Linked DNA regions of Homo sapiens: region 1 is linked to region 2. The links come from fine-mapping of genetic effects on plasma protein levels. A gene starts in region 2. The other region holds a variant in brackets. All regions are shown on one strand. Distances are between the middles of the regions.

Region 1 (5,313 bases), 35 kb before region 2:
TTGCAACCTGTTTTATCAGCAAGGTCTTTATAACCTATATCTTGTGCTGACCTCCTATCTCATCCTGTGACTTAGAATGCCTTAACCGTCTGGGAATGCAGCCCAGTAGGTCTCATCCTCATTTTACCCAGCTCCTATTCAAGATGGAGTTGCTCTGGTTCAAACACCTTGACCACAGGGTCACAGAACGAGAAGATGGGAGGGAACCTCAAAGCCATTTCCCCAAGGAAGTTGAGGCTTGGGTTTTTGAGGGCTTTGGAGTGGGCAGAAGTGTGGAGATCAAGAGTACAGGGTGAAGTCATAGGAAGGGGAGAGGAAGCAGCTGTGTTCTCATGCTGATCCTGTTCCCCTGTGGGAGACTTCCAACTGGTGGCTGGAATTCTGGGGAGGTGTGTCTGAAAAACATCTTAAGTGTCTATAGGAACAATGGGGATGCAAATCAATTCTTAAACAGTCTTCTGGCCTTAATGTCAGAGATCCTATCTAGGGGAACGGTGGGGAAGCAAATGTCAGGATCTAGTGCTACTGTAACTGAGGAACTGGTTAGCCACTCACTGCAGCAGAGTCCAATTAACAAGATCCAGGCCTGGTACAAGAAAAGTGAATTTATTTTTGAAGCTAGCTTGGAAAGACACAAAGTGTCCTGCTTTAAGTGTGCTGCTTCATCTTTGGAGCAAAAAGCAGACATGTTTATAAGGTTAAAGGGGAAGTGAGCAAGGGCAGGAAGTCCCCCTGCTAGCCTGGTGTCTTATCTACCAAACAGCTGAGTTGGCATACAGTTGAGTTGGTGCCTTCCTGGGCAGAAATAAGTTGTAAAAGTGGCCAAGTGGGCGTGTTTTCACCATGTCCTCCTGAGGCCACCCCAGAAGTGGGAGTTCCGTGGAGATGTGCTTTGATCTGCAAATTGACTGTCAATTCTGGAGAAGAGATCACTGGGGCACGTAGATGACCTTGCCTTGTAGGGAATGTGTGGTGAGGGGGAGGTGAGAGGTTATTTTGCATTTCAAAAAGGGCTAGGTAGGAAGCAGGCTGAAAGGGGAAAGGAGAAGAGAAGAGAAAAAAGTAATTAAACCACCTCAGAAAAATCAGGGTACTTGGTTACGGTACATGACCTACTGCAACAAGGAACTGGGCCAGGGTGCAGCCTGATTAACGCTGAATTATAACTGTATTTGTACCCAGAACCTGGCATGCAATTCCCGTCAACCCTGTGGGGATGGTTTCAAAACCTGACCCTGTTTCTCATTGCATCCACACCCACAGCGTCAAAGCAATGCCAGGAGAACCACGCGTGGCTCATGTTTCTTGGAGGAGTCCTGGTTCAGTTCTACAGGCTTCCCACACAAAGCAATATACTGTTGGCCATGTAGGTAAGAAAAGCACAGGAAACTGTTTTTTACCCTTTCTACCAGTGTTTAGTACCAACCACAAGCACCAAAATACTCAAACTTCGAGCTCTGTGGCTCTGGCTCTTATGGACGGGGAAGTGCTTTACAATTGCCAGGCATTCCATTCACTTTATAGAATAGCCAGAAAGCTCCAGGGATGGGGATGCCCTGCCAGGGGGCCACAGCTCTTAAACAGGTGACATGCTTGTGACTGGAAAGAGGTCCCGATCCAGACTCCAAGAGAGAGTTCTTAGATCTCACGCAAGAAAGAATTCAGTGCGAGTCCATTAAGTGAAAGCAAGTATATTAGGAATGTAAAGGAATAAAAGAATGGCTACTCCCCGTAGACAGAGCAGCCCCAAAGGCTGCTGGTTGCCCATTTTTGAGGTTATTTATTGATGATATGCTAAACAAGGGGTGGATTATTCATGCCTCCCCTTTTTAGATCATAGAGAGTAACCTCCTGATGTTGCCATGGCATTTGTAAACTGTCATGGTGCTGGTGGGAGTGCAGTAGTGAGGACCACGAGAGGTCACCCTTGTCACCATGTTGATTTTGGTGGGTTTTGGCCAGCTTCTGTACTGCAACCTGTTTTATCAGAAAGGTCTTTATGTCCTGTATCTTATGCTGACCTCCTATCTCATCCTGTGACTTAGAATGCCTTAACCACCTGGGAAGGCAGCCCAGTAGATCTCTGCCTCATTTTACCCAGCACCTATTCAAGATGGAGTTGCTCTGATTTCAATGCCTCTGACACACTAATGTTAGAGCACCTTGGACATTTTCCTTAATCTGAGTGTCTAGTTTTCTTTTCTAGAAAATGAGAAAAAACTAGAATGTAGACCCCCATGTGCTCAAAGCAACAGCCTGCCTGGTTTGCTTGGACTTTTCCTAGACTGTATGATAACAGGTGCTCGATTCCTCTACGTAAATCTTCACCTTTTATTAATCATATTACCCTGCTTCTCTTAGAAAACGCACAGTTCTGCCCTCCCTACACCAAGATCACAAAAGGCTAAGTGTAAGTCATGAGCCAACCAGACCAAGAGTAACCCAGGCAGGCCAGGTGGCCAACTTGGCCATCTCATAGGCAGTTATCACTGCTCAACTTGAAGAAATACAAGGTTAATTATTGGAGTTTGAAATCCAGCAGTGGAATCCATGTGGTCCTATCGTGGTCATATAATGTGCTGAGGCTCTTACAAGTTGTCAGTGCTGAGTGGGAA[C/T]GACAAAGCCAGAAACAAGGGCAAGCAGAGGTTGAATGCCAGGAAGACCGTGGCAGGGTGCCAAGTCCATGAAGCAAAAGCACCGCCATGGTCTAAAAGGCATAGTCCTCTAGAGCAACAGAGCCAGTAACTCAGATCCAAAGGAAAGAAAATGATAACCCTTTCCCCCTCAAGACTTGCCATTGTATGGCAGCAGGAGGGCTGCTTGCAAAATAAATAACCCACCAACATTTGTAGGTTGGAGATCTCTCAGTCAAGAGTGACAGGCTGTCACTGAAAATGGGTCGGAAGGAAAACTGTCATTCCTACTAAGCAATTTTAAATAGGCTTTGTTTCCAGATATCTGTGCCTACAAGTCCTCATTTCCTCATTTGGAAATGGGATTTGATATGGTTGTATTAGGAGGTAAAATTAAAAATATCTCCTTACATCCCATTCACACTGCTGCATGATGGAATTGCCAACCTTGTAACCAAAACACATGTCTTTCTAATAAGAAGTCAATGACACAAGAGAAAAGAGATTCCTGCAGCTAAGGTTTGCTCCTGGTATTTTCCCCATGATATCACCCAACACAATGTACACTCTGTGGGTGGAGAAGGATGGGGGGTGACTTTTTAGCTTGTATACTTATTTGAGAACCTTAAATGAGATGCCTATTAAACTATCCATGTATACAAATAGACTCAATATTAAGAAAAGAAGTAGTATAAGACTGAAAGACATGCTTAAGAGAAAGGAGGGAGCCATACTTCAGGAATGGAGAAATGAAGAAAAATCTATACTGGCTAAAGTCAGGTTAGCTAGGAGGGAACATATGAGGAAGGCCCAAGTCTTATGCTGCTAGAAGCCAGGGCAGAGGCAGTAGGCTGGAAAGGACCAGTGGTCATCTTGGAAATATGTGCTCCACTTGAAGCCATTTGGATAAAAAATAAGAATTCTTAGAACACTGGACATCCCAGAAACACGATAAATTAGCAGACCAAATGCCAGTCTGCAACTGCTGGTTAAAAAGAAAAATCCAATTACTTATAACACTGAATATAGGTCAGCAGAAACTCCCGGCATCAAAGAAACTCTGACCATAAAGACTTAGTGTATATTTTTACAAAACACTTCACAGGGCCTTGTGGATCAATCATGGATTCAATTTTGTTCTACAAATTAAAATCAAGCCATGTTTAAAGCAATCTCATTAAGTCGCTTGCCAACGGGTGCACACAGTACCACACTCCTGGTGTGACATGACCATTCTTATCATTCATTTTTGGAACCCTCCTTTCATGGATACACCACCCCTCACCTCACTTCCCTGCTTCTGCCTTACCTGTGCTTTCCCTGTGGCTTACCTGGATTATCACAACCAGATCCCCTGCAGTTTTCAGCCTTGCCAACATCTGAACATGTCAAAGAAAAATGGGCAGGACAGAGTTTGAAAGGCAAAGCCTTTATTCAAGGCTACAATAAGGGAGAGAGATTGAACTAACTCTGCTGAAACAAACAATGGGACGATTTTTAAGAGCTGGGATGAGCTAATGGAAAAGTACTGGAAGATGTTTGTGGGGAGGTTGGTCCATGTGATTAGGCATCTGTGTTTGCTAATGGGTGTTTACTGGAGTTAGGCTCCAACCCTTCCACAGAGACTGAGAGACAGAGACACTATTCCTTTCCATGATTACATTTCAAAGAGATGTCAGGTCCTTGAGAAAAGTGGTCCTGGGTTGCAAAACTAGCAACAGGTTGGAAGATTTACATCTCACAGGGACAGAGAAAGAATTTACAATTGCAAGTTTCTAAAGTAAATGCTTCAAGAAAAGAGAAGTCAAGGCCTATATTAGTCCATTCTCATACTACTGTATAGCTACTACTCGATACTGGGTAATTTATAAAGGAAAGAGGTTTAATTGGCTCATAGTTCCACATGGCTGGGGAGGCCTCAGGAAACTTACAATCATGGTGGAAGGCAAATGGGAAGCAAGGACCTTCTTCACATGGTGTCAGGAGAGAGAAGTGCTAGCAGGTTAAATGCCAGACACTTATAAAACCATCCGATCTCATGAGAACTCACTCACTATCAAGAGAACAGCATGGGGGAAACCACCCCCATGATCCAATCATCTCCCTCCCTCAATATGTGGGGATTACAATTGGAGATGAGATTTGGGTGGAGACACAAAGCCAAACCATATCAGGGCTCTAGAGTCTGAAAGAAGCCCATCTAAAGTGTAGTCCAGCACAGGGGAAGGTTATGGCCCTCTTGGTCAAGCCTATCTATCCTTAGGAGGTAAGGAAGTTCTTCTAGCCTTGCCTCAAACCCAGGGTGAGCATTAGTATATGGTGATTCTCCTGGTGGCTGAGCCACAGGCTCCAACACTGTTCCCCAGTCATGAGGCTCTAAACCACTACCCCACAGAGGCCCATTTCTATAATAAGGTCCTGCTCCCAAGCTTCCTCCTTTCTCTCCATCCTTATCCCTCCCCCTTCCCTGCCTGGCATGGTCTTGTAGCTGGAAGACGAGGCCTCAGCTCTGGGGTCTCATTTCTGCTTCACAAACCTCCATCAGCACAGACTGTCCCCATGTGGAGCCCAGCCCCCTGCTGTTATCTCTGAAAAAGATCTACTCAACTCTATAATCATTTTCGGCTACTGAGCTATTCGTCCTACAGAAATAGTAAATGCTATTTTACTGTGCATGGCC
Region 2 (5,319 bases):
AATGGGATCAGGGCCCAGGTCTCTCTGCCTTAGACAAACGCAGAGCCCTGTGCGCGAGGAAGAACACTGCTTCCTGAGACAGAAAGGATCGTTAGCTAGTGACACGGGGGTTAATGTAGGAACTTAGGAATGCACGCAGGACGGGAGTTAAGGGGTTTTGATGGACAGTCTCCATTTTCTCCACAAAATAGAATATAAGGTCATCCTCTGAGGGTGAAGGGGATAAAGTCCTGGATTTGGGGGGACCAGAAAGGTTTGGAATGGCTACTGAAGGGCCAGGGCTAGGGCAGCCCAGGTCACTAGAAGGAAGGGGCACCCTTCACTGACCCTGCTGTGGCACCGCCCATCAGGTGAAGGTTGCTCAGCAGCAGCATGAGGCAACCTGGGAGGAAAGCAAACCAGGGGAGCAGCTGCTGGGCCCCAGGGCTGGGCCTACAGAGCTGACGCAGGTGCAACTAGGCAAAGAACATTCCAGTTCCTCCAAGGCCCCGCTAGGATCATTCCATCGCTGCTCACACAAGGCAAACGCACAAAGCACCTCATTGCATGTGGTCACATGGACAGACCAACACCTTCCATAGTGTATTTTATTATTACTGTTTTTTGAGACAGAGTCACAATCTGTTGCCCAGGATGGAGTGCAGGGGATAGATCTCGGCTCACTGCAACCTCTGCCTCCCCAGGTCAAGCGATTCTCCTGGCTCAGCCTCCTGAATAGTTGGGATTACAGGTGCACGCCACCTAGCCCAGCTAATTTTTGTATTTTTAGTAGAGATGGGGTTTCGCCACACTGGCGAGGCTGGTCTTGAACTCCTGGTCTCAAGTGATCTGCCTGCCTCAGCCTCCCAAAGTGCTGGGATTACAGGCATGAGCCACCATGCCCAGCCACCTATCATAGTACAGATCCAAGAAAGGAGGCATGTCAAAAGAATGGCCCAGAGAACCAAAAAGCAATTATAAAAGTACCATAATAAGCGCACGTAAAACAAAACTGTCTTGAATGGAAAAAGGGAGTTACAACATGCAATTAATCTAGGAAGAGCTTTAAAAAAAAAATGCCAAGAGGAGGTAAGACAACTATGACACTTAAATAAAGGTTAAAAATGAGAGTTGTTCAAAACCGAAGTTTAAAGGTTAATTACTGGTGCCTTACACGTAATACATTAGTTTTGTTAATGGGACAATATTCAGTTAGGTTCGGTGTGTCAGCCCCACAAGGTGAGTATGTCAGCCATGAGTATAAATTAGTGAAGCTTCCGTGAAAAGCAGCCCTTTAACAGACCTTGGTCTCCACACAGAGAAAGCATACTGCCTGTCTGTTTAAGTGCAAAAAATAAAGGAACAAATAATGCCTCCACTAAAAGAGTATCAAGTTTGTTTGTTGTTCATGTAAAGCAAATTTCCAATTGGAATTTGAAAAAAAAAAACCACAAGTGTCTTACCAGAAAAGGAAAGAAAAACTCCAGATTCTCGTGCTAATTCATGTTCCTGAGTTGCCCACAGCCATAAGACAGGTTTGCTCAGAGATCCAGGGTGCAGGCACCCAGCTTTCTTTGCTGAGTGTGGGAGTCCCAGGGATTGGGGTCTAAAGTCAGAAGCCTGAGGGCTTTCTTCACCTTGGCTATTCACTAGTTTTTAAGGAGTTCTGAAGTTTTATGAAAAGTCTTTTACGATTAGCTGGGCATGGTGGTGCTCACCTGTAATCCCAGCTACTCAGGAGGCTGAGGCAGGAGAATCGCTTGAACCGGGGAGGCGGAGGTTGCAGTGAGTCGACATGGTGCCACTGCACTCCAGCCTAGGCAACACAGCAAGACTCCATCTCAAAAAAAAAAAAAAAAAAAAAAAAGTCTTTTAAGAAAACTGAGATACTGGCATCTAGTAGGTAGAAGTCAGAGATGCTGCCCAACGTCCTACAATATACAGGGTGCCCCCTCCACCACCAACAATAAAGAACGACTTGACTCAAATGCCAGTATTGCAGCTCTTGAGAAACTCTGCTCTAAGCTCAAAAAACTCAGAGAATTCTAGAATGGTGAGAAAAAAGGAGAAGATGCAGAGTCAGGAAGTCCTGCGTCTCTTACTTCCTTAATTTGATGACCTTGTTCCAGTTTCTTAACGCCTCTGCATCTGTTTTCTCAAAAATGTAAAATTATGATAATTATATCACAGGGTCTTCTGAGGATTAACTTAAAACACTGAGATATTTTTATTTCAAGTAGTCGGGTAAAGCACTAGCCAAATACCAGTTGACAACAGCCAATTACAAAAAAGTTGTGTATACTTACACAGAAAGGAAGATCTCTCTATAGGAAAGGATGAGGTGTGAAGGGTGAGGGGCAAAGGTGTGAGTGAGGGGGAAGGGGTGGTAAAGGGAGTTGAAGTCTCATGCCTCAAGGCCAACTGGATTCCGGGTTTGTTAGAGACACTGGTGGGTCTGGCAGAGGCGTTTGAACAAGAGCAACTCCATCTCGAATAGGAGCTGGGTAAACTGAGGCTGAGAACTACTGGGCTGCATTCCCAGACAGTTAAAGGATTCTAAGTCACAGGATGGGATAGGAGGTCAGCACAAGGTACAGGTCATAAAGACCTTGCTGATAAAACAGCTTGCGGTAAAGAAGCCGGCCAAAACCCACCAAAACCAAGATGGCAATAAGAGTGAACCCTGCTTGTCTTCATTGCTACACTCCCATTACCGCTATGACAGTTTACAAATGCCATGGCAACGTCAAGAAGTTACGCTATATAGTCTAAAAAGGGGAGGCATGAATCACCCACCCCTGGTTTAGCATATAATCAAGAAATAACTATAAAAATGAGCAACCAGCAGCCCTCAGGGCTCTGTCTATGGAGTAACCATTCTTTTATTCCTTCATTTTCTTAAACTTGCTTTCACTTTACAGACTCGCCCTGAATTCTTTCTTGCATGAGATCCAAGAACCCCCTCTCTTGGGGTCTGGATCAGGACCCTTTCCCGTAACAGCTCTAACACCTTACAGCCTCTCCCTAGCTAAAGTCAAACTGGAGCTGACCCCTCACATAGCACAGTCCTTAAATGAGATGTGTGAAAGTTTCCAGAACATGCCAGGCCCGCAGTCAAGGACTCTCCTATCCCCTTGCCATGAGACCCAATCCTAAAGACCACCTGTGGGGTTGGAACTTGAGGTTCCAAATCAGCAGTGCCCACCTCCTTCAACACCCAAACCCACAGTCTAACCCTGATGCCGGAAGCCTTCCCCACTCAACAGCAGGCATTGCGTGGAGTGAAAGAAGCCAGGCATGATGGACAGCTTCCTGTCTGAATCCCCTCATATGAACCTGACGGGCACAATGAACCTACTGGGCTAAACTCCAGACGCTGGCCACCTTCATAGGGTGGAGATGACAGAACAGGACAGGAGCCATGGGGCTCCCGGGGCGGGTAGGGGTGGGTCATGTTCCTTGGCTTGGGGGCAGTTACAAGGGTACAGTGGGGCTTGTTGAAGGGCAAAAGTTCTGTAAGTTCGTCCCGACAGGCCAAAGAAACCCCAGAGCCGTCTTTCGACTGACTACAGCCTGGAAGAGAGGCCAAGACCACTCCCTGCCTCTATTGCTCCATTTCTGAGTTGGTCTCACTTTCCACCCCACTGACGGCGCGCTGCGTGAGGGGCGGGGCATAGAGGGAGGGGAGGGGCTATGCGAAAGAAGGCGGGGAGAGTGGGGTGGGGCCGCTCCTTGGAACGGAAGCGCGCGGCCTCGAGGCCCTTCCGGTGCGGGAGAAACTACTACTCCCATAATGCCCCGCGGTCCCGCGAGCTGCCAGTCTCGTCGCGAGAAGCAGCGGCCCGGGGCGACTGAGCGGACAAACGGAAGTGTAGGTTACGGTCTGAGACATCACCGCCAAGCTGGGCATCGGGGAGATGGCCGAGACTGACCCCAAGACCGTGCAGGACCTCACCTCGGTGGTAAGGGACGGCTGTGAGGGCCGGAGGCCGCGGCCTTCCCGGGCGGCGCCGGGCCAAGCCCTGCTGGACAGAGGCGCGCCCACCGCGGCCGCGCGTGGCGTCTGCCGAGGCCCCGTTTCTGGAAGCGTCTCTGGCCGAGGCTCCCGGCCACCTTGACCCCCGGGGCGCTCGGTGCGGGCCAGTCTCCCCGCGGGCGCCCCCAAGCCCGACCCCTTCCAGTAGCCCCATTCATCTGTCGCGAACGCCCTCCGGGTCCCTCCCGCCTACCTCTGACACCCTCCCCGCCCTTCAACTCCTCACACACCCCCGGGTGCCCCAGCCCGGCAGAAACAACCTAAAGACCCTGAGCTTTGAGTCGCAGCGGCCTCCCCAGCCCAGCAGTCTAATTGGACAGGTTGGAAAACGGAAGCCCAGAGAAGGAAGATCTTGCTGAAGGCCGCACAGCTGTCCAGAGGCAGAAATGGGGCTGGAACCCCGGGACCAGGGCTTGCGTCCTGATCCCAGGAAGTTGTCTCAGGATCGATGTGGACCGTGTTTGTTTGTTTCGGTTTTTCTTAGGTGCAGACACTCCTGCAGCAGATGCAAGATAAATTTCAGACCATGTCTGACCAGATCATTGGGAGAAATATCCTTTTTATCTGCAGTCGGCCTCCTGTGGGCCTTTGGAGCCTATTTGCCGGGCAGTGGTGGGGATAAATGAGTAGTTTTCAGGCTAGCTTCAGCCATTCACTTGTAGAATTTGAGCTTGGATTGTACTGTGTTTCTGAGAAGGACTGCGCCGAGAGCTAGGGGCAAAGCTGAGTTAGACTCCTGGCTCAAGGAGCATACGTCTACCAATCCTAATAGCTGGTGTGGTGGACCATGCACTGTGAACTAAGCGCTTTTGTGTGTGTCTTTTGATGCTCAGCATGACCTTATGAGTGGGTTGTAGTGTTATCATCTTTAGCAAATGAATAAATTGAGGTTTAGGGGTTCCATCACTAGTAAGGGTCAGGGCTGGAATCCGATGCGGGGTAGCCATGCCCCACAGTCCTGTACTCTTACCCACCAGCGTGTAACAGTGTCGAAAGAAAATTGGAAGACCAGTTTCCCTAAAGTCGTTGTGTTTAAGGCTGTAGTCTGCAGGGACGGGAGGAAAAAGGCTCAATGAGATGTTGGCACGCGTTGTCTTTAACTTCAGCACTTGATGATATGAGTAGTCGCATTGATGATCTGGAAAAGAATATCGCGGACCTCATGACACAGGCTGGGGTGGAAGAACTGGAAAGTGAAAACAAGATACCTGCCACGCAAAAGAGTTGAAGGTGAGGAAGGGGGCAATTTTTTTTTTCTTTTCTTTTCTTTTTTTTTTTTTTTTTTTTTTTGACACGGAGTTTTG

Direction of the effects. Positions count from the first base shown, and alleles are read on the strand shown. Strength reflects both the effect of a copy and how common the allele is.
In carriers of allele T in region 1, the plasma level of the protein whose gene starts at base 3,798 in region 2 tends to be higher than with C alone (moderate association).

The links. PIP is the chance, under the fine-mapping model, that this variant and not a neighbour inherited with it causes the effect. The UK Biobank Pharma Proteomics Project read protein levels with antibody pairs (Olink). The fine-mapping took linkage between variants from a reference panel, not from the people measured, so its PIPs are less certain.
Region 1: its variant is fine-mapped to the plasma level of the HSBP1 protein (UK Biobank, PIP above 0.99).

Annotation. Positions count from the first base shown.
Region 1 is chr16:83,768,845-83,774,157 of GRCh38, forward strand. All of the region lies in intron 11 of CDH13 (cadherin 13), which reads left to right. CEDORA (CDH13 antisense oligodendrocyte and neuron associated lncRNA) reads right to left here and starts at 4,105. Exons shown (of 4, transcript NR_188499.1): 1 at 3,965-4,105. RefSeq lists an enhancer at 629-768. The variant C/T (reference allele first, on the strand shown) is at 2,616.
Region 2 is chr16:83,804,181-83,809,499 of GRCh38, forward strand. HSBP1 (heat shock factor binding protein 1) reads left to right here and starts at 3,798. Exons shown (of 4, transcript NM_001537.4): 1 at 3,798-3,941; 2 at 4,500-4,566; 3 at 5,125-5,245. The coding sequence starts at 3,897. The coding sequence ends at 5,243. RefSeq lists an enhancer at 3,592-4,093 and silencers at 3,751-3,927, 3,945-4,234.